Linked DNA regions of Homo sapiens: region 2 is linked to region 1. The links come from fine-mapping of genetic effects on gene expression. A gene starts in region 1. The other region holds a variant in brackets. All regions are shown on one strand. Distances are between the middles of the regions.

Region 1 (14,916 bases):
GGGTGTGAGGGAGGAGCTCTGGAGAGATGGGCATGAGCTTTTGTTTTTTAAAGACCAGCATGATAGTAAGCATGGGCTTTTTCTATTTCTCAAAAGGGGGCAGATAATAGGGTTGAAAAATATTGAAAAATTATCTTAAAGCAAAAATCAGATCCTGTCACTTGTTCTGTTTAAAACGTCCGTGGCTCCCAGTGCCCTCTTGAGAAAGTTCACTTTCCAGGCTGATCTCTACCCACCTCCTCTCACAACCTCCCTCAACCAGACGGGATTCTTTGTTATTTCTGAAACATTCCATACTTCTTATCTTGCCCACCTGGTGTTGGGGCTAGTGATAGGGATCCGTGGATGAAGCTGGGGTGGGGTGGAGAACATGGTTGCCACATGCCCAGACAGTGCCTGGCAGGAAGAAACATGTGGCTTATAGTGCCAACTCAGCCACCGCCTGGCCAGGGGGCCCGACTTGGTCACTTCGTCTCTTCAACAGACCTGTTGCTCTCCCGGGTTCCCTGGCAGCATCCTCAACTCCCTCACAACCCCCCCACCACCCCCATTGAGTCGATGACCAAGCTCCATCTTTCCAGTAGTCCCACATCTCTTGCCTTGTTCTCCACATGGTTCAGGCTTGTCTCCCAGCCACCAGCCCTGCCCTGCCCCACTTCCAGGCCATCGCTCACACCGAACTCCAAAGGGATCTTTGTAGGGCCCAGCTCCCATGCCCCATTTCCACCACTGTGCAAAGACCTCCCTGGTTCCCACTTAACAGGACATAAAATTGAGGCACAGAGGAGCTTAAAGGCAACACAAGCCAGGTGGCATGGTGGCTCACACCTGTAGTCCTAGCTACTCGGGAGGTTGGGGATGACTTGAGCCCAGGAGTTCTGGGCTGTAGTGTGCTATGTCCATCAGGTGTCCGTACTAAGTTCAGCATCAATATTCTGGGAGCAGAGGACCACTAGGTTGCCTGCGGAGGGGTGAAACAGCCCAGGTCGGAAACGGAGTAGGTCAAAACTCGTGTGCTGATCAGTAGTAGGATCACACTTGTGAAGTGAATAGCCACTGCACTCCAGCCTGGGCAACACAGTGAGACCTCATCTCGTAAAAAAAAAAAAAAAAATGGCAACACAAACCATCTGCAAGACCCCAACTCAAATCCAGCGTGGGTTCCCCCAGCCCAGGGTTCTCTTTCCTTCAGACACACAGAGTTTGCATTCACAAAGAGAAGTGGGGAAAGAATGCCGCCTTGTTTTCTTCAATTCCCCACACAATCATGTCCCAAGCAAGACCTCGCTTGCATGGATGCAAGCAAGAGGATGCAGTGGCAGAGTGTGGGTTCAAATCCTCACTGTGCCACAAGCTGTATGGCTTTGGCTCACTTAGCCTCTGTATGCCTCAGTTTCTCCATATGTGAAGTGGGGATGATGATCATGATAGCAGCTATCTCACAGGTGAGGTTCAAGTTAATACATGGAAAGCTCTTCAATAAAGAGTCGTTACTAGCATGCTTTTTTTTTTTTTTTTTTTTTGTAAAGGTGGGTTCTCGCCATCTTACCCAGGCTAGTCTCGAACTCCTGGGCTCGAGGGATCAGTGTTCTTTTTATTAAAAGGAATAAGCCTTCCAGAAATACCAGATACAATGCTAGATACATATTTGCAAAGAGAAGGGTGAAAAGTAAGTCTACTTTCATGCCCGTCAGGCACCTCGAACTCACCACATCCAGAATCAATCTCATTACTCCTCCCCCAAAGTAATGCCCGTTGAACTCTTCTTGATGAATGTTCTGCTGCCAGAAACATGATCTACCTGGATCCCCCCGCTTCATTCCCCACCTGCAACCCATCACCAAGACCTGTCCACATGACTCCCAAAGAGCTCCTAGGACCACCTCCGTGTCTCCCTGTCCCTAGGGTGGACCCACAGGTTGAGCTTCCCTTGAAACTCCGCTACCCACAGGTTTGCTTCAAGATAGAGCACGTGACCCACCCTGTGTGGCCCAGAACAGCAGAGACAGCTTCCTTTTGTGATGCCCACCAGGGTTCCCCTGACCCTCAATTCTGGTCTGGTTCCAGACACCCCAATTCCTAGCAGCCGGCCCCGGCTCAGCACCTAACCCACACTGGGCAAGGATGCTCTCTGGCTACAAACCCCTTCGATGGCTCCCCACTGCTCCTAGACTACAGCTCCAGCTCCTTCCCCTGCCAGGCTTGGTCTGGCCCGTTCCTCTTGCTGCCAGCCTCAGCACCAGCCCTGAGCCTGAGAAGCCCTCACAGTGTCCAGCACAGCTCCCTTGCCATCACTTCACACACACACACCACCTTTTGCCTTTGGCTAAACCAGTCCTTTCTCTCTCCCAGGCTGCCATCCCACTGCCTAGGTGACCCAAACTGCCTTCCTCATATGCGGTCTCGGAGGGATGAAGGAGGGGTGCCGCCTCTGCTTGACCTGGGGGTTCCCCCTCTCGCCCCTATCACAGATGGGCAGGACCTCTCCCCCAAGGTTGGACTTCCCCAAGGCAGGATTTGCAGGGTGTGGGGTAGGGGCAGTCGCGGAGAGGAATGGATTTGAGAGGCTGCCCAGGGTGCTGAAGGAACTAGGGAGGCTAATGGACGTCTAAAGATGGGGCCGTGGCTCCCCCTGCTGACGGGAGGCCATATTGCACCCTGTGTCAAGGCAGCCCAGAGCTGGCTTAAGCTCCAAGCCGAAGCGATCTGGCCACGTGCCTGGACTGGAAGAGCTGGCTGTTCTGAGCGAGTGCCGGTTTCTTCTGTAAGGCTGGCTCTGGCACTCCTGCTCATTGCTCCCAGACCCACAAAGATCATTTTTATCATCCCCGTAAAACCACCCCTCCAATAGAGGGCGTCCTCCTGGAGGGCAGGCGCCTCTTCTGATAGGCCCAGGTCAGTGCCCAGCACCTGGCCCAGAGTAGAGGCTCAGTCAACATCTGACCAAAACAACAGCAAGTAGGTATCGTGGGAGTCCAGTGTGAACAACAGAGAAGATGGGAAGGGGGGCCCACAGCAGGGGTGCCCACAGGCAACAAGGCCCCACGTAGGGGTGAGGGCAGGTGGGACAGGTCTTGGAGGCGAGGAAGCCGTGGTACTGGCTGACTGAGGTCCCCTGTGGGGCCCAAAGCCTGGAGCGAAGGATGGCCTGGGAGCGGCTGTGGGGATGGAGGAGGAGGCTGCCCACCCACCTCCAGCCTGCTCTCCCTGGTGGAAGCCAGGTCCCCTGGCTCCAACCCTGAACCCCACTCCAGCCTTCACCCACAAGACCCAGGCCAGCCTTGGTTTGAGCCTCACCGCCTCCCTTTGGGGCCCAAAGTTCAACAAGGAGAGTGATCTTCTCTACCATTCTCGCCAGTCAAGCCATGGGTCATCAGGCTTACACTCTGAGGGCTGGCAGGGAGCAAGGGTCTCAGAGTGGAGGGAGGGGTGGCCAGCTTGCCTGGAACTCTCGCTGGGGCCAAGAAGTGGCTCTAGGGGTCTTCCCCTGATGGGCCCAAGAGAAAGGCCTAGAGGGGCCAGCAGAGCTTTGGGACCCAGCAAGGCAGGGCTCTGGAGCCCTGGCCCCTCCAAAATGGAGGTTGGTGGGGCTGGGGCCACTCAGACCAGAGGACAGGCCACGGCTCTCCACTTCAGAAGCCACCGCCAAGCTGCCACTGCTCCCAGAGCCCCAGCTGCCAGCCCAGGTCTACCCCAGCCTGGAGCCTGAGGGTTCCAAAGCCCCCGCACAGCAGAGGGGAAGAGGGCCCTGTGTCGCCCTCTCCTGGACAAGGAGCTCCTCTCACCCCCTGACCCTGGGGTCCCCTACTCTTCTGCTCGACAAGATGGCCTCTGGCCATCAAGAAAGGGAAGGGAGGGAGGGATGGAAGGTGACAGTCCTGGGCTCTGGTCGCCCTCCATGCACCTGTGAGCCCTTCCCAGTCCCAGGCACCTGGCTGAGGCACCCCAGGCCCGGCCCTGCATGGCAGGGGCACTGGAGCACATCCCTGGGGGTCTGGAGCCAGCACTCAGCCTCCTGACTGCGCCCCCTGCTGGCAGCCCAGCAGGCGTGCGCTGCCTCCACTTTGTCCCAGGACCCCAAGGCTGGGCAGTTACACCTCTGGGGTGGCAGAGCTGCCCGGCCACGCTGCCACTTGTTGGTGCTTTGGGGGGAGGGGACAGGAAGTTTTTGGACAGTTGGAAACTTGTCTGGGGAAGCAGAGGTTCAGGTGGCAGTGGGCGAAGCCGTGTGGCAGGCTCTCATTGGTTTCCTTCCCACAAGTGACCAGGTCCCCTCCACACTCGCCGCACCCCCAGGTCACCACTGGCCCATTGCTGTATCTTTCTTTATTGGTTTGGGGAAAACTGGAGGGGGCTGGAAGGCCATGACCATGACACAAGCAGGACCACCCACACTCAGCGAAGCACACAACAGCCGTGCAGGAAAGACAGCCCCTGAGGCCCGCCTGCCAGCACCCCCTCGGCTTTTGGCGGGGCGGGGGGGGCAGGGGCGGGAGAGGCAACAGGGGAGGGGAGCCACTGCCCCCAGGCAGGGCAGAGCCTGGGGACAGACTTGGGGGTGCCCCATTCCAACCCCAGCGCCATGCGCCACACCCTCAAATCTCAAAATCCAGCAGAGGCCAGCCCCAGGGGGAGGGGTTGGGGGAGGGGACCGAAAGCATCCAAGGGAAGGAAATCTGGGGGTCAGTCCACTTGGCCTCGGCATCTGCCTGAGAGGGAGAAGCAGAGGGAAAGGGGGTAGTCAGGAGCCGGCCTGCCAGCCCTGTGCCCCCACCCCCCGCCTCGGTCAAATCCCGGACTTCTTAGAGGCCCTCTCCCCCTGCACCCCCTTGCCCAATGTCAAGCACCCACTGGCCCTCCCTGTCCTTCCACCTCTCCTGGGGCCCTGGCTCCTCCCTCTGCTCTCTGCCTTCAGTCCTCTGGCCTGTGGGGGCCACCCCACTTAGCTCTTGGCCACATGGAGCGCCACCACCCTCTAAGCTCTCCAAGGAGCCAGCTCCTGGGCGTGCAGGGTCCACCCAAACACACCTGGGCATCACCACTTGGGGGGCTGGCCAGCACGGAGGCCTGAGTGGCTGTGGCGGGCCATGCCCTGCTCAGAGGCCCCCTCGCCCTCTGGGATCTGCCCCAGCTTCCGGATGTGGCGCAGGAACGAGGTGGCATTGAAGGCTCGCTGCCAGAAGAGAGGGAGATCAGGCCAGGCCTGGGCCCAGGCCCCAGCCCCTAGACTGTGAGGACTGCAGTGGTCACTGGGCAGCCACGGCGATCAGGCTACAGCTGGGGTGCGGCGGGCGACCACACTGGGTCTCTCTCCACACTGACCTTCCAGTGTGTCCGAGCAAAGTTCTTCCGGATCTGCTCACTGACAGAGCCTAAGATGTCCCTGTCGAAGGCTGTGTCCCCAGAGATCCTGGGGAAAGGCTGAAGGTCAGGGGGGGTCTCTCTGCAAATGCAGGCCCCCTGGCCCTGGGGCAGCTCAGCAGGGCTCCCACTCACCAAAGGTGCCGCAAGGCCTGTTGGCAGGTGAACCTCTTCTGGGGGTCTCGCTCCAGAAGGTGCCGGATGAAGTCTTTGGCTGGAACAGGGAGGCTGGGTCAGCCTGTCAGGTCCCCACTCCCTTGCATCACCTCCAAGCACGGGCCAGCCTCAAGCTCACCTGATTCTGAGATGTCATCCCAGAAAGGAGAGTCAAACTCATAGCTGGCCCTCAGGATCTGGCTGAAGAGCTCAGGGTCGCTCTCGTCGTAGAAGGGGGGGTACCCACACAGCCTGGCACCCACAGATGAATCATCCAGCTGTCCCACCCTCCCCAACCCAGCAGGGGCAGGCAGGCAGGAGACAAGCCTTCCCAGCGGTCACTCACAGGATGTAGGAGATGACGCCCAGGGCCCACACATCTACGGCCTTCCCGTAGGGTTTCTGCTCCAAGAGCTCTGGGGCTGGGGGCCAGAGACAGACAGACGCACGCACAGGCACACACGCAGCCATGCCGCTCAGTGTCACTGGCTCGGCCTACTCAAGCCCAGGAATGGCCCACACAAAGGCAACGGGCACAACAGCCTTCCCGGCTGTCTAGGGTCCCCCAGGCCACCCCACTCCCAGCAAGCCTCAGGGTGTCGTCCCTCACCCACATATCCAGGGGTCCCACAGGCGGTGCCTAGCATGTTCCCAGCCTGGATTTTGGAGAGTCCAAAGTCAGAGACCATGATCTTCGAGTCCTCAAAGGGCGTGGCATACAGGAGGTTTTCGGGCTGTGACACACGGACACCGGGAAAAGGGCCAGTCAGTCCTGACGCGGTGCCGGTGCTGGGACAGGATGGGGACTAGGCACTCTCAGGTTCCCCAGAGCCTTGGTGGAGCAGGAGATCAAGAAAGGCCCCAGCCGTGCTCCCGGGAAAACAAAGGCAGGGCCAGGTGGGCAGGTGGGAGGGTGGGGTGCAGAGGCCCCAGCCAGGCACCTTGAGGTCCCGGTGCACGATCCCCAGGCTGTGCAGGTAGGAGACGGCGCCAAGGACCTGACCCACCAGATGGCTGGCATCCTTCTCTGTGTAGGAGCCGCGCTCCATGATGCGGTCAAACAGCTCGCCACCCGTCACCCTGGGGGTGCCAGGGGTTTGGCTGACCCAGGCACTCAGCCTGGCCTTCAGCCCCACTCACTGCTCAGTCCCTCCCCGGCTCCCACAGCCTGCCCAGGCCCTCCTCACAGTTCCATGGCCAGGTAGAGGTGGGAAGGGCTCTCGTGGACATCCTCCAGAGCGACGATGTTGGGGTGACTGATCCTGCAATGGCAAGGAAGCGCCTGTGGGCCAACAGAGTCAAGGGGTGCTCTGTCCTGAGGCCCTGGGGAAAGCCTCCTCCCTCTTCTCTTCCTCCCACCTCTGCTCCCCATTCCCTACCACATGCCACCCCTGCCCGGTCCAGGAAGGCAGAGCTCCAGCCTGAGCCCCGGCCTTCCTTCTAAAGCCCATTTGAAAAGCACAGATCAATATCAACTCACTCCCTTTGCCACAGGGATGTGCAGGCCCAGAGAGAGCACTGCCCCAGGCCTCCCAAAGGTTGGTGGCCAGGCCTGGACTAGAGCCAAGGACTGCTTGCACCCCCCCATCGACCTATGCCCCGTCCCAGGGCCCCGCGAGGTGCGCACCTACGGAGCACTGCGATCTCGTTCTCCACCAGGGCCTCCTTGCCCCGGAGGGCCTTCTTGGGGATGCACTTGAGGGCCACGAGGTGTGCGGAGCCCCGCTCCTGGGCCAGCACCACCTCGGAGAAGGCACCCCTGCCGCAGACGGGGCGGTGGGAGGTGGGAAGGAAGTGGGAAGAGAGGAGAGGCAGGAGGGAGAGAGAGTGGAGCGGGGAGGGCCCCCTGTGAAGGAGATGGGGAGGCCCTACCTGGCCCTGTGCCACCCCCCACCACCACTCACACATGCCATCTCACAGACTCACTCACATTCACACACCCCTACATATTCACACACACACACATCATCTCACACCCACTCGCGTAGTCACACACACATGCCATCTCACACAGGTACACACACACACACACACACACACACACGATCACACACGCGCGCGCACACTCACGAGCCGAGCCTCTCGCGGATCTCGTAGACGCTGCTGATGTCCTCCGTGTGTTTCTTCAGCAGCAGCATGTCTGCAGGGGCAGGGGAGAGGTGATGGGGGTCTCTCCCCGCCCCGCCGGGGGCAAGGGCAGCTTCCTCCTCCACCCCCTGCCAGGCAGGCCTCAGCCATTGCCGCTGCGCGCTCGACCCTCCCCTCCCCCGTCCAGGTCCACACCCCCAGACGGACGCCTCCCAGCGAGGCCACCGCATACACGCCTCCACATCCCAGGCCTACAGCTGCTATCCCACGCACCCTCCCCCGCACCCCGAAGGCGACCAGCGCCTGGATGCTGCCTCTCTGCCTCCACACATCCGGCCGCTTTCCAGAAGGCTCCATGCTCACCCACGCCGTCCCTCCCCCATCCACACATCTACAGCGCCCAAGCCCCCACCCCCGCCTAGACCCGCCACCCATGGCACAGCGCCCACAGGCACCCGCTGCCCAAGCCACCAAGCCGCCCGGGATGCACCTGCGACCCCCGCGCGCAGCCACCTGCCAAGACCGCGGCCACCCACGCGGCCGCAGACGCAGCCCAGCCCTCGGCGCCGCGGAGCAGGGGGACCTGGCAGCCTGGGCCGCCCGCGTCCCGAGCTGCGTGGACCGAGCGCGTGCGGGCAGGGGGCGCGCCAGGCGTGACAGGTGTGCTGCGGACGCGCAAGGCTGCGGCGGCCGCGGGCCGGATCCGGTGCGCCCCCGCCCCGCGCGTCCCCGCGCCCCGGAGCAGGTGCAGACCTGGAGCGGGTGCCGCAGCGTCGTGCCGCGCAGTGGCCGCAGCGCCAAGCCCCCCGCCCGCGCCCCGCCGGCCCCGCCCCCTCCGCGCACGCCCCCGCCAGCCGCCCAAGCACGCAGTGGCCCAGCGCGGCCGCGGCGCCGCAGGGCACCTTGTAAGGCAATCGCCGGGATCCGGCTCGGGTGCCGGCCGCCACCGCCCAGCCCACTGCTCGCTCGCGCCGCCTCCCGGAGCTGCGGCCCGGCTGGGCCGGCCCCAGGGCCTTTGCACCACCGGTGGCTGTCTCCCGGAGAGCTCTTCGGCCACAGGTCGGCAAGGCTCTCTGCCTTCCAGTCTCTGCCTTCACCGCCTCTCCGAGGACAGGCTGACCCGGCCACTTGCCCGAAAGCAGCCTCCATGCCTAGCTCCAGGACCCTGCAACCCTGCACCACAGCTCTGCCACCCTGGGCTCCCGGCACTCACTGGGCTCCCTCTGGCTCCACCATTAATCCCTCACCCTCGCTTTCTTCTCTACCCAGCAGCCAGAGCATTCCTTTTATTGAGATCATGTCACCCTCCTGCAGCTCTCTATGTCAATCCAAGTCAAAGCATGAGTCCTTAGGGGGCGGCCTAACGACTGCCCTGGCCCCTCCTCCTCCACCTCTTCCCCGGCCACACTGGCCTCCTGACGGCCCTAGCCTTTGCTCCCCTGCCTGGAATGTTCTTCGATCAGATATCTGCCTGGCTTGGCTCCTCGTTCCATCAGATCTCGGCTCAAATGTCCCCTCCTCAAACCGGCCTCCCCCGCCCTGCCCCTGCCAATTCTCTCCGCATAACCCTGCCCTGTCTTTAGAACGTCCAACCGCAAAAATCACCTTCTTCGCCTGGTCTTCCTCACCAAAGCGTCCGCTCCCAGAGAGTGTATCTCCGCGAACCCAACCAAGACGAGCCCAGGAAATAAGTGCGGGTGACCGAATTCAATCCTGCATCCAACAGTTACTGGACCCCCCTCGCTGCTCGCCATCCAGTCCCATGAGGTTGTGGCCAGCATCACAAGGGTTCCGTCAAGTGACCGTGGGCCCTGGCATGACACGACGTCTTCAAGAGAGTCCACGGGGCAGGAAGAGTTTTTAAAAAATCATTTTTCCAGACCTCAACTCCCATATATACTCTGTGTAAAAACTGGGAAATCTGAGAAGGCCCCTAGCAGCTCTTGCCCCCTGGCCTTTCCCAGTCACCCCTCCCAGGACACTGCAGAAGGCTCCAGGGACCCCAGCACTCAGAAACTCCAGTCCCACCTGCTCCTCTATGTGAAAATGGTTTCCTGGGACCGACATCTAAAACAGAAAAAAATAGGAATGGAACTGATGGTGAGCCCCTTCTCATGACAGCAGGAAGTGCAATTTGTTTACAGATACCTACAGATAGTTCCCCAGAATGTCTAATACGCCAATGGTGCTTTGCCCAAGCAGAGTTCTACAACATGGTCCTGGGTTATAAAAAGAAATAGAAATACACATATTTCTGTGCCCCAGAAAAGTAATAAAAAACTGCCCGCGTGGAAAGAGATGGCACAAAGAGACCTATCTGAGGGGCAGCAGATGGAAACTGGAGGCCAGAAGGAAAGCACCCACCTCCAAAGTGGGCCTGGGAAAGACGAGCCAGCGGGCAGGTATTGGTCCACGAGGTGACTCAGGTGGCCCTGGCCTCATGTAAAAGCTGATGGCACAGTTTTTGTTTGAATCATTGTATCATGGGGTTTTTTTTGGTTTGTTATTGTTGTTGTTGTTTGAGACAGGGTCTCACTGTCGCCCAGGCTGGAGTGCAGTAGTGCCATCTCAGCTCACTGCAGCCTCTGCCTCCTGGGTTCAAGCAATTCTCCCGCCTCAGCCTCGAGTAGCTGGGACTACAGGTGCATGCCACCACACCAAGCTAATTTTTGTATTTTTAGTAGAGGCAGGGTTTTACCATGTTGGCCAGGCTGGTCTCGAACTCCTGACCTCAGGTGATCTGCCTGCCTCAGCATCCCAAAGTGCTGGGATTACAGGCGTGAGCCACCGCACCAGGCCTATATTGTGTGTTTACAAGAGAAATTACACCCTCCGGCCTGGCAAGGTGGCTTATGCCTGTAATCCCAGCACTTCAGGAGGCTGAGGCTGGAGGATCACTTGAGCCCAGGAGTTCCAGCCTAGCCTGGGCAACATAGCTTTTCTTTTCTTTTTTTTCTTTTCTTTTTTTTTTTTTTTTTTTGAGATGGAGTGTAGAAAGTAAAAAGTTCCTCTTCAAAGTTTCCCTTCTTATTAAAAAATAAATCATAAGTTTAGAAATAATAGTTTCTTTTAAAGACTAACTTCCTTCAAGCCTCCTTGCTTTGTGCTAATAACTCTTTGTTAAGCCCTATCCTATGTAGCTGTTAAACATGCTTACAGGCACGTAGTACATTCTATGTCCTTGTACTTTAACCAAGATATCTGTGCTGGACGTGCTCACAGGCATGTCCCAGCTCGCAGCCTATCTCCCTTTCCTATTGGGGAATATTATTACTTTTCTAAGCCGTTTCGTAAGCAACTTCCTCTTTTCCTTTATCCTTCCATTACTTTTATCTATTTTCAAAAGTTTTAAACTACTAGCCAATCGGGTTTTAGGTTAGATTGTGAGGTCTGGCTGCAGCCAATGGAAACAGGACACAGTAGCAAGGACAAACGGCATAAGGAATAAAAATTGCTTCCCTCCTTTGTTTGGTGTACTCATGTGGCAAAACTGCTGGCGAGTGTACCCTTTCCGCAGAAAGTTAAAAAATGGCCTTGCTAAGGAGATTAAACTTATGCCGGGTGTGGTGGCTCATGCCTGTAATCCTAGCAGTTTGGGAGGCCAAGGTGGGCAAATCACCTGAGGTCAGGAGTTCGACACCAGCCTGGCCAACATGGTGAAACCCCGTCTCTACTAAAAATGTAAAAATTAGCCGGGCATGGTGGCTCACGCCTGTAATCCCAACTACTTGGGAGTCTGAGGCAGGAGAATAGCTTGAACCTGGGAGGTGGAGGTTGCAGTGAGCCAAGATCGTGCCATTGCACCCCAGCCTGGGGCACAAGAGTGAGACTTCATCTCAAAAAAAAAAAAAAAGAAAGAAAGAAAGAAAAAGAAAATTAAATTTATGTTCAAGTGCTATTTCTTTGTGCCACCGGGGAACAAACATTTCTAACATGGAGTCTCAGTCTTGTCACCCAGGCTGGCAGGCAATTGTGTGATCTCCGCTCACTACGACCTCCGCCTCCTGGGCTCAAGCGATTCTCCCACTTCAGCCTCCCAAGTAGCTGGGACTACAGGCACCCGCCACCACGCTGGGCTAATTTTTGTATTTTTGGGTAGAGACAGTTTCACCATGTTGGCAGGCTGATCTCGAACTCCTGACCTCAGATGATCCACCCTCCTCGGCCTCCCAAAGTGCTGGGATTACAGGCGTGAGCCACCGCGCCCAGCCACCTGTGTCCTTTTGATGTCCGTTCATCACTGCATGTGTGTGTGCATGCCCGTGTAGGTGTGGGCGTGTCTGTCTCTGTGAGCCCTTCCTTACTTTCTGGCTCTGTGCTCATCCCTTATATTTCCTGAACCGGTCCTAGAAGCAGCCGTTTTCTCTAAGGAGCCATTTTTGAGAGAATGGTGTTGGAGACGAAGATCTGGGCGCTAGGTGTGCCCATTGTTCCTGGAGTATTGCTGCTTCTAGGCCCTCTCCACTGACAGCAAGAACTTATAGTGTGTGTGTGTATATACATATATATACATAGTGTGTATATATATATAGTGTGTATATATAGTGTGTATATATAGTGTATATATATATATAGTGTGTATATATATAGTGTATATATATAGTGTGTATATATATAGTGTATATATATAGTGTGTATATATATATAGTGTGTATATATAGTGTATATATAGTGTGTGTATATATATAGTGCATATATATAGTGTATATATAGTGTGTATATATAGTGTGTATATATAGTGTGTATATATATAGTGTGTATATAGTGTGTGTATATATAGTGTGTATGTATATATATAGTGTATATAGTGTATATATAGTCTGTATATAGTGTGTATATATACACTAACCCATGTACATATAGATAGATATGTAGTATATATAGTGTATATATATACACTAACCCATGTACATATAGATAGATAGATATACAAGCCCATATAATACCCATTTAATATATATACCAACCCATGTTATGTTACTAACATAACATCTATAAACAGATACACACGCGCATCAGTATCTATATTAAACTCAACAGGAGTGCACACTGATGTCTCCAACTCTAATCCATCACCACCTGGGTCATTCTAGCTGCCTGCCCTTGCTTGTCTATAACCTCCCACTCTAAAAGTGAGAAACCCAGGCCAGGCACGGTGGCTCATGCCTGTAACCCCAGCACTTTGGGAGGCTGAGGCAGATGGATCATCTGAGATCTGGAGTTCAAGACAAGCGTGGCCAACATGGTGAAACCCCAAATCTACCAGAAATATGAAAAATTAGCCAGGCATGGTGGTGCATGCCTGTGGTCCCACCTACTCGGGAGGCTGAGTTAGGAGGATCTCTTGAGCCTAGGAGGTCAAGGCTACAGTGAGCCATGATTGTGCCACTGCACTCCAGCCTGGGCCACACAGCAAGATCCTGTCTCTAAAAATAAAATTAAAAATTAAAATTAAAGTGAGAAACCTGGCTCCCACCGTCTTCCATCCATTGCCGTAGTTCTTGAATTCCGGTATAAAGGTGGAGAGGTTGCAGAATCATTCACCTCTACCCTGGTGGGGGGTGATCTTATCAATTAGAGTGCGGCGCTTATGTGTTCTTCCTTTTGCTCTTAGTCTGACAGATGCCTATTTTAAGTTCCCTCTGTCTGCTGTAAAGTTCTATGGGTTTTGACATATTCAGAGTGTCACGTGTCCACCATTACAGCATCATACAGAACAGTTTCCCTGTGCTACAGAATCCCTGTGCTGCGCCTACCAAGCACGATCCCCTCTCTCAGACCCCTGGCAACCATGGATCCGTTTTCTGTCTTTTTTTTTTTTTTTTTAATCTATTTTGCTTTTTCCGGAATGTCAGGTAAATGGAGTCATAGAGTAGGTAGCTTTGTCAGGCTTTTTACTATGCAATATGTATTTAAGATTAACTTATTTCTTTGCATGGGTTCATAGCTTTCCCCTCTTTATCACTGACTAGTATTCCATTGTCCAGATATACCACATTTTATTTGTTCACCTACTGAGGAACATCTTAATTGCTTCCAGTTTTTGCCAATTACGAATAAAGCTGCTAATACTATCGCACTGGTCTTTAAGGAAAAAAAGGCTGCTATAAATATATGTGGGGTGGTTTTTGTGTGGACATAAGTTTTCAAATCATTTGGGTAAATACCAAGGAGTGTGATTGCTGAATTGTATGGTAAGAGTATACTTAGCTTCGGAAGGAACTGCCAACCGCTTTTCAGGGTGGCTGTACCTCGTCACATTCTCACCAGCAATGAGTGGGAGTTCTTGCTGCTCCAGGTCCTCGCCAGCATTAGGAGTTGTCAGTGTTTTGGATTTTGGCTATCTAGTAGGTATGCAGCGGTATCTCCTTGTGGTTTTAATTTGCAATTCCCTAAAGATGTATGCTGTTAAACATCTTCTGATATGCTTATTTGCCATTTGTATTTCTTCTTTGGAGAGGCATCTGTTCAGATCTTTTGCCCATTTTTAAATTGGGTTGTTTTCTTATTGAGTTGGGATTTTTCTTTTCTTTTCTTTTCTTTTTTTTTTTTTTTTTTTTTTTGAGACACAGTCTTATTCTGTTGCCCAGGCTGGAGTGCAGTGGTGCAATCTCAGCTCACTGCAACCTCTGCCTCCTGAGTTCAAGCGATTCTCCTGCCTCAGCCTCCCGAGTAGCTGGGATTACAGGCACCCGTCACCATGCCCAGCTAATTTTTGTATTTTTAGTAGAGGCAGGGTTTCACCATGTTGGCCAGGCTGGTCTCGAACTCCTGACCTCAGGTGATCCACCTGCCTCGGCCTCCCAAAGTGCTGGGATTACAGGCATGAGCCACCGCACCTTGCCAAGACCCCATCTTCTTCAAAAAATTTACAAATTAGCCGGGTGTGGTGGTGTGTACCCATAGTCTCAGTTACTTGGGAGGCTGAGGCAGCAGGATCACTTGAGTCCAGGAGTTGGAGGCTGCAGTGAGCCATGATCATGCCACTGCACTCCACCCTGGCAACCAGAGAGTGATAGCACAACTCAAAAAGAAAAGAGAAAAGAAATTACACCCTTTGCAACTGTGTAAACATCTGCTGAAATCCTGTACGTGTCAACTTTGAAATGTATGTGTGTTGGTTGGGTGGTGGTGATGTGATACGGTTTGGATGTCTGTCCCCTCCAAATCTCATGTTGAACTATAATCCCCAATGTTCAAGGTGGCGTCTAATGGTACGTTTTTGGGTCATGGCGGTGGATCCCTCATGAATGGCGTGGTGCCGTCCTCACAATAATGAGTGAGTTCTTGCTCTGAGTCCATACGAGATCT
Region 2 (8,452 bases), 280 kb after region 1:
CTCGAATGGGCCAGTCCCTCCAGGGCCCCTGCTGGGAGCTCTGGTCTCAAGATCCTGCTTGGTGGGAAAAGCTGGGATGGCCGGAGGGTCTGGGATGAGGGGGAACGGGGCTGCCACCCACCCCGCCCTACACCAGGGGCCCCGGCAGGGCGGCTGAGGGCCTTGGCCCTACCAAGCCTGTGGGGCAGGGGTGCAGCAGGACAGGGAACAGCTAGTGGGCCTGAATGCAGAGGTCCCTCTGACCTGTCACCACACAGGGTAGACAGGAGGCAAGTTCTGTTTTTGTTGTTGTTGTTGTTGTTTGTTTCTTTGTTTTTTGAGACAGTGTCCTGTCGCCCAGGCAGCTCACTGCAGCCTTGACCTGCCAGGCTCAAGCGATCCTCCCACCTCAGCCTCCTGAGTAGGTGGGACCACAGGTGTGGGCCACCATGCCTGGCTAATTTTTGTATTTTTAGTGGAGACAGGGTTTTGCAATGTTGCCCAGGCTGGTCTCGAACTCCTAAGCTCAAGCGATCCTCCTGCGTCAGCCTCCCAAAGTGCTGGGATTACAGGCGTGAGCCACCGCACCCAGCCTAGCAAGTCCTCTCTTTTGAATCAGTTTGTCACCAACTACCTCAACAGTCAGTAATGGGCAGCCATTGGCGCTAATTTTTTTTTTTTTTTTCCCAAGATGGGGTCTTGCTCTGTCGCCCAGGCTGGAGTGCAGTGGCATGATCTTGGCTCACTATAACCTCCGCTTCCCGGGTTTAAGCAATTCTCCTGCCTCGGCCTCTGGAGTAGCTGGGATTACAGGTGCCTGCCACCATGCCTAGCTAATTTTTTTTTTTTTTTTTTTTTTTTTTTTAGTAGACGGTTTTTCACCATGTTGGCCAGGCTGGTCTCAAATTCTTGACCTCGTGATCCACCTGCCTCGGCCTCCCAAAGTGTTGGTATTACAGGTGTGAGCCACCGCGCTCGGCCTTGGCACTGACTTCTTTACACAAGTGACACAGCTCTAAGGCCAGACAGTAACTGCAGGTAACAGCCCACACCCCCCTTCTCTGGGCCTGTTTTCCAGCTGCCCAGATCTGTCTGTAGCTCTATGACTGACCCGATGATGCTACAAGGCAGCTGGGCTGAGGTGGTTCCTACCTTCCAGGCCAACAGTGCACAAAATGGGTTCCAGCCTCTGGGCGTGGGTACTGCACTGCTGGTCTTTGATGCCACAGTGGCTGTCTCAGTCCCTGCTGCAGGCTGACCCACCCAACCCCAAACAGTTCCCCTTTGGGGTGCTTGGTAATGAGGCTGATGCCCTGGCAGCTGGGGAGGCATCCTCTGTGTGCTCCCACCCACCCTCGGCCTCGGCTCATGCTCAGGGGATGAGCTTTGTGCCCAGCCGGGCTGTATCTACCTGCCCTGCTCACAGGCCTGTCATGTTCACATTCATGTCCAGCCTCCCTCCTGCCTCCCCAGACTGAGTGGTGCCCTCAGACGGAAACGCGGTATTTTCAGATAAACACCAGAGGCATGACTGATGTGGCCCTTGCCTTGTGGAGTGTGATGCAGCCGCGGTGAGACAAGTGAGCTGAAGGAATGCGGAGGGTGGGTAGCCCCACAGGTGCCAGCTACAGAAGTGGGGTAGGAAGAAGCCTTGTACCACCCCCACCAGGCGAAGCGCCCACAACGCCATTTGCCAAAGGTATGGCAAATCCGCAAGGCCCCTCGGTTCTGGGGCCAGCCCCATGTGGCCCCTGGCCTCCACCAGCCCCAGCCATGACTCCTACCGCTCTGCTCTGAAGGACACTTTCCCACCCCTCTCCTTGGGCCTCTGCGAGGCTAGGCTCCAAGGCAGGTCACAGTTGGTGCGGTGGGTAAGACAGAGCCATGGCTCCTGGTGTCAAGCCCTGGCCAGTCTGCTTCCCCCCACCCCCACATGACACAGCAGACCCCACAGGACAGAGGCTTCCCAGAAGAGGTCGCATTCGACAGGGCCTTGCACACACACCCATGCCACAGGTGGAGACACGGAGGCTTTGGTTACTCCAGGAGCTTCTGGTAGCGGAGTGCCTGGGTGCTCTGAGAGGAAGGCTGGGCAGTAGAGGTGTGTAGGGGAAACAAAGGCAGGCGGCAGGGGCTTGGAGGGGGCGGGGAATGCAGGTGCGCCAGGAGCACCAGGCCCCAGAAGCAGGGTGTCACTCCCCTCAGACCCGCCTAGGCCTGTGCTGCTCCGGCCACCTTGCCCCGGAGCTTTCTGGGCCTCCTGGTACAAATTCAGCCCACGGGATCCCAGCTGTCCTACCGACCCAGCTGCTAGGTGGTCAGTCTGGATCACAAGCTCTTGCTTCTTCCCCTTGGGGGCATGGCTCACATTTAAGAGGAAGCCAGAGGAAGGGATCCACCTCTGCAGTACCCGTGGTGTACTTGACTCAGCCCACCTCCCCCCAACCCACCCAAGGAGGCTGCCGCTGGTGACCTGCCAGGCCCTTGCCCCATCCTATCCTCTAGTGCAGGAGGGGAGGGAGGGAGATCTGGGCCCCAGACACAGGAAGTCAGCAGCAGCTGCCCAAGGGGCTCTTTGGCCCTTGCCCTGCAAGGCAGCTACCAAGCAACCTGCTGGACCCTGGTCCGACTTGGTCCAAAGACCGGAGGCCACAGCAGAGGCCTCACTCTGGGGCCTTCTACGCTTTCACCAGAGCTCAGGTCTCCCTCCAGGGGGCTCCCGTGAGCCTCGGGCAGGTCTCAGCCTTCCCGCTCAGGCTTCCTGAGAGGATGCCGGGACACAGTGAGACACCTAGTGGTTATTTCAAAAAAAGTCTTTTAATTGTTCAAAATAGCACAAAACGACATCGCACTATGGTAATATTGAGTCACAGGGGTTACTCTACAATAGTGAACGGTGTACTCTCCTCAGAAACAAATCAATAGGCGCGCGAGAGAAGGGATGGGGTAAAACAACAGGACCAGGTGAGTGGGCTCCAAGGTGACTAAACGTGACATTTTCCACAGCGAAATATACTATAATACAACAAACCAGAGGCCCTGGAGGACACAGGCTGCTGCGTCTCCAGGCAGAGGTCGGTAGGGGAGGGCTGGAAAGATTGGCTGCTCGGTTCAAATCCTTCTGACTTGCTGGCAAGCCTTGCTCCTCGACAGAAGTTTGGGGTGGGGGGCAGAAAACTCCAAGCAGATCCCCCAGCCTCGGAGCCTGGCCTGAGTTCCATGCTGCACAGCTGCTGCTGGTGGCCTGCTCCATTGCCCTAGCCTCCCTTGTGGGTGACACTACACAGTCACCCTCCCAAGCTGCCTCCAAGGACGCCTGGTTCCCCTCCATTCTCCACCCTTTCCATGACGATTTGGGGGAGGTGGAGCAGTGGCTGCGGAAACCAGCAGCCCTGTTTGGGAGGCGGTGCCGGTGGTGCTCAGGGAGGGGGCATGGGGAGAGCTGGAAATCCAGGACAAGGAGGCCCCAGCCCTCCCTCAAGCTCCCCTAGGCTCGACCCTATAGATGCGGAGTGATCGCCCATGAGGAATGAGCTGTCCTTCCTTTGTTCCAGCGGCCTGAGGACAGGCAAAAGGGCAGAGGGCAGGGGCCAGCAACAGGAAGTTGGGCTGGGTGGCAAACAGCAGGCCCCTCGTGGCAGATTTCACACCTCTCCTGCCCTGGCTGGCCCCAGCTTTTCCTCCAGAAAGATCCCTGCCAAGAATTAGCCAAGAAGAAAAAAGTAAAAAAACAAAAACAAAACAAAACAAAACAAAAAAAAGAGAAAAGAAAAAAGATTACACATTCTGTACACAGCTAACAACAACAAAAAAGGGACAAAACCCCACACGCTAAAATTACAATGAAAGTGTGAACTTCACCAATTGCAACCTAAAAAACACAACAAATGCAGCAGTTGGCAGTGCGGCCTGCAGGGAGGTCTGCACAGGCGCTGCCCAGGCCGCCGCGGGGCTCCTTGCCCCTTTTTTCTTTTTCCTTCTTTTCTTTTTTAAAATGGGAAAGAAGAGGGGGAGGGTAGAAGAGGTGGGAGCACAAAGGCCTCTGAGAAAATGTGTAAGCTTCCTGTGGGGTCACTGAGCAGGGTGGGCCGGGGGAGCCTGAGGAAGGGAAGTTAGGTGACTGGAAACACAAGGGGAAGAAAAGAAAACAGAACCAGACACCCAGGCCAGGGTGCCAGGAAAGCCACTCTGGGGAGGGCCAAGAGGGACGCCTTTCCTCCCCTCCATGCCTGCCCCCGACCTGGCCCTCAGGAACGCACAGCCTTGGGAGGGCGGAGCTGGCTGTCCTCAGCTCC[G/A]CCTTCCCTCCCCGCAAAAGTCTCTCCCCAGGGTGGGCGGCAGCGGGGAGGAAAGGAAGCGCGCTCCTCTCTCTGCTTTCCCATCTGCCTCTGCTTCCTCCCAACAGCAATGGTAAAATGTGCTTTCTTTAGATTATTTTAAAAACAGAGAGAAAGAGAAAGGGGAGAGGAGTGAACAGCGGCTCGCGAGGGTGAAGTGCGAATGCTGGGACGGGGTGGGAGGGGTGGGCCCTGGCGGGTGTTCCTGAAGCAGGGGGGTCTGGAGAAGAATCCAGGGGCTAGTCAGCTTCCTCTCACTGACCATCGGCCTTAGATTTCTTTGGAGCAGATTTCCTTGGAAGGCAGAAAAAGGAAAGAGAAAGTTAGTGTGGGCCCTGCACCACTGGAGGCCCTGCTGGTGCAGGGCCGGTTAGGGGCCCCCAGTCATTTGACAAGAGGCTGAACCCAGCTATTTCCACCCCTAGTCTCAGAAGGTTCCCGAGAGGGGCTTCCTGCTTACATTTCTGGAGAGGACATGGGCCGCTTGTTGGCTGGCTTGGTGCCAGAGCTGTCTTTACTGGTTTCTGGAAGGAACGGGAGAGATGCGTGAGCAGCATTGTGACAGAACGAGAGCAAGGAACACATGCGCCCTGCCCGCCTGCAGAGTCTCTTGGTGCCACATGGCATGACCCGCAGCTGGCAAGGGTGGGGCGCCTGCCCTATGGGTGGTCACCTTTTACGCCACTCCTTGGGACCAGAACACGACACCACTCACTCCCCTCTGGACGTAGGTTAGAAACCCACTCAGCTCAGCTCCCACCTCTCACTGCCCTCCCAGGTCCCAGAGCCCCAGGGGAGCTGGAGCAGGAGCATGACCTGACAGGAGGCAGGCTGGCCTCCATCCCTCACCTGCTGCACTCCAGGGACCTGGGACGTGCTGTTTTCGGGCCTGGAAACCTACACTTTCCCGCCAGCCCTCTCACTGCTTGTCCCCTCAAACATCCTGGGGTGGCGTCCCCTGCACCCCCAGGCCCGGAGCTGGGTCCCCTGCTCTACTTGATGGCCACCCCCGTGGGGGGCTGTGTGCGCGCCAAAGGAAGCAGGGAGACGCCGCACATGGGAAAAAATCTCAGATGGTGACAGTTCCTCCTGCTGCACCCGGCTTCCTGGGCCTTCCCTGTGCCTGAAGAGCTCCACGAAGGACACTCACCCTGCAGCCACCTCACTTGTGTGGCCGGGCCATAGCCCTTCTCATTGCGGGCGGCGATGCGGAAGATGATGGCGGGCTTGGTGGTGTAGTCGATGTGGGCGTTGGAAAGGCTGGAGGACTGCACCAGGCAGGAGGGGCTGGGCCCGCAGTACACCCGCATGAAGGCCAGCTGGGCCGGGGTGGAGCTCTTGAGCTCGCCCCCAGCCTGTGAGCTCTGGATGGCCAGGTACACGGAGTACTCGATAATCTTGCCGGAGGTCACAGAGGGTGGCTCCCAGGTGAGGTGAGCACCATCCGGACTCTAGAAGCCAGGGGGTCAGAAGGTCAACAGAACAGGCTAGAGGCTTCCAGAACTGACTAATCATGGTTCCCATAAGCCATTTTCTAACACAGTAGAGATATTCCATGTGGTAGTTCAAGGAGCTTCAAAGAGATCTTCCCCCAAGTGGAAGGACTAAGACAAACTGGGACTCAAAACCTAGCTCTCCTATGCCCCCCCCCGGCCACCTCATGTGCTGAGGCAGGCAGAAACCAACCAGGGACAGACGGCCACCCCACAGCAAGACTCACTTTGCTGATTTTAATGGCACAAGGGGCCCCTGGGAAACCAGGCAGGCACGTCTTAAAGGCTGAGATTTCGCTGAAGGGCCCCCGGCCACAGGCATTGATTCCGGCAACACGAAACTTATAGGCTGTGCCTGGCTGCAGCTCCTGCTTCTTCAGCTGGTTATAGTCAGGGACGGTGCCCAAATCATCCTAGGAAAAGAGGAGTGGCATGAACGCCACTGTGGAGAAGGCAGCTCTGGGCCACCCCAGGAACACTGCAGGTCCATGGTAACTATGGGCCAGAGGGAAAAGAGGTCAGCGGTGGCTGGCCCCTCACGGCAAGGAGGGACGTGGCGAGGCTGACTGTGGCCCGGTACTGGCGGGAAGGAACCAAAGCTCTCCTTTTCTACTGCTTCAGGGGGGATGGTCTCTGCCCACCTTCCTCAGGCTTCCTGGCTACTCAGCTTGGCCCAAAGATGGAGGAGTTTCCTGTAAGCCCCGCTCAGGGTGGTGGAGCCAAGACCCACCCACCTGAGGACATCAGCACCTGGGGACACTTACGTCTGATGGGACAGCATCATCTGGTGGCAGGAAATAGTGTGTCACCATTACATTGGTGCCCTTAATGACTCCCACATCAAACCACTGGTTTTCCTTCTTCATGGGGGCTTTGCTGGGTGGGGGCGGCAGGTCTGGCTTCTGCAAGACAGAATCGGTGCGACGAGATCAGGCCCTCAGCACCTAGAGGCAGTGCTGCCCCCCAGGCCACGGACTCAGGAGCCCCAACACACCCGACTCACCACACCCAGGGACTCGATGCCATTGGCCACTTCGGTCAGGGTAGCTGCAGCCTGCAGCTTGGCTGGGCTGGCCACCACAACCGGCTGGGGGGCCACAAATGTGTTGGATGGAGCCAGGCCTAGGAAGAAAGAAGGTGTCAGCGGGAAAGACTCGGGAAACCTGGCTCCCAAGTGAGACCGAGCCTCCCGTCCTGCCCTCACCTCCCTGGGTGCCCCCACCACCCCAGCACCAATTCGCCCTCAGTCGCTTACTCTCAGTGGCCGTTGAGGGCAGCAGCGCCACAGTGCTGGGGACCGTGCCGGCCAGCTCATTGAGGCAATTGCTCTCAATGGCTGGGTCGTTGAGACTGTCGGCAGGGGCCAGGGCCTCAGTGGGGAGGTGGTGATGCTGCTGCTGGGCCTGGGCCTCCTGCAGCTGCTGCTGCTGCACCAGGGCAGCCAGCTCCTGCTGTGTCAGCACAATGGGTATGGTGGTGGCCTGGCCCTCCTGACCCTCGGCCGACAGGTGCCCCAGCTCCGCCTGAGTCACGGTTGCTGCTGCCTCGGAGGTGTCCATGGGCTCGCCGGTGCCTGCTCCAGGGTCGAGAGAAACACTACTTACTAGGAAGGCTGGCCAGAAGCGGGCAGCCCGGGCGGAGGCCCCCAAAGCCTGTCCTAGAGACCCCGTCCACCTCCTACCGTGCTCCACTGTAGGCTAAGCCCTGGCCGAGGGGCCCTGCCTGTTTCCCAGGCGCTAACCCCAGCCAGCCTGTTCTACACGGCAGTCTCTACTACTTGGCCTGCCTGGGGTCCCCTGTGCTCGTCCTCCCCATCACATCTGGCTCATGCCACCCTCGAGGGAAATGGGCTCCTCTTCCCAGGCTGTCTCCGCGGCCTATTGCTCCCCCGAGCGGCCCGGCTTCCCCAGGGTTGCACCGGCACTCACCCATGACGGCCTGCTGCGCGGCCTGGAGCACCGCCTGGATGGCCAGGGCCTGGGCTTCCTCCGTGGCTGCGGCCTGGGCAGCTGCTTCTGCAGCAGCCGTCACTGCCAGCTCCTCGGGGGTGAGCCCCGTTACCATGAGGGTGGTGGTGCCAGCTTGGGCCTCGGCCATTAGCTCTTGGGGAAGTGATAACTGGTCTACTTCGGACTGTGTGGGTGGGGGTGGCTGGACCACCACAGTGGCCACCACCGCAGAGCCGGCAGACTCCTGGCCCGAAGATGGCTCCCCTGTGCTGCTCAGATCCACGGCGGCCGGGAGCTCAGGGGTCTGGGAGGCTGACAGGACCTCGGCGGACTCCCCCATCAGGGCTGTGGAAGCCGACTGCAGAAGCTGCCGTGGCGGCAGCTGCTGGCGAGGACCTGGCGACACCTGGAGTTCCTCTGGGGGCTGCAGGATGTCAACAGCAGAGAAGGGCATGTCAGAAGTTTCTGTGTTGGCTATGGTCACTGTTATTTTGGCCGGGATGGGGACTTCAGTAGTCAGAGCCCTTGGGGCAGTCTCAGTCATTGATGAGATCTTCTAGAAAGGGAGAGAAGCCCCTGTCAGAGGGGAGGAGAGGGGCCAGAGCCAGGCAGCAGGGCTGAGAAGCAAGCCAGCCCTCACCTTTCCTTGTGGGCCTAAGTTTTCATTCTTGATGGGCCAGCTCCAGCCCATGTTAAA

The links. PIP is the estimated chance that this variant, and not a neighbour inherited with it, causes the effect.
Region 2: its variant is fine-mapped to the expression of PNCK in tibial nerve (GTEx, PIP 0.97).

Annotation. Positions count from the first base shown.
Region 1 is chrX:153,665,422-153,680,337 of GRCh38, forward strand. It overlaps PNCK (pregnancy up-regulated nonubiquitous CaM kinase), which reads right to left and starts at 8,392. Exons shown (of 12, transcript NM_001366977.1): 1 at 8,359-8,392; 2 at 7,588-7,657; 3 at 7,145-7,276; 4 at 6,705-6,779; 5 at 6,459-6,597; 6 at 6,128-6,251; 7 at 5,864-5,939; 8 at 5,657-5,769; 9 at 5,497-5,575; 10 at 5,323-5,410; 11 at 5,029-5,173; 12 at 4,312-4,709. The coding sequence starts at 7,655. The coding sequence ends at 5,036. It also overlaps the pseudogene RN7SL687P. RefSeq lists enhancers at 1,857-2,358, 2,359-2,858 and silencers at 4,068-4,117, 5,346-5,601.
Region 2 is chrX:153,944,780-153,953,231 of GRCh38, forward strand. HCFC1 (host cell factor C1) reads right to left here. Exons shown (of 26, transcript NM_005334.3): 19 at 7,735-8,179; 20 at 7,062-7,379; 21 at 6,810-6,928; 22 at 6,571-6,708; 23 at 6,034-6,219; 24 at 5,464-5,764; 25 at 4,774-4,837; 26 at 2,778-4,607. The coding sequence ends at 4,568. Among named protein-coding and RNA genes, the nearest start is that of RENBP, 4.4 kb to the left of the region's middle. RefSeq lists enhancers at 16-779, 2,946-3,485 and a silencer at 47-106. The variant G/A (reference allele first, on the strand shown) is at 4,275.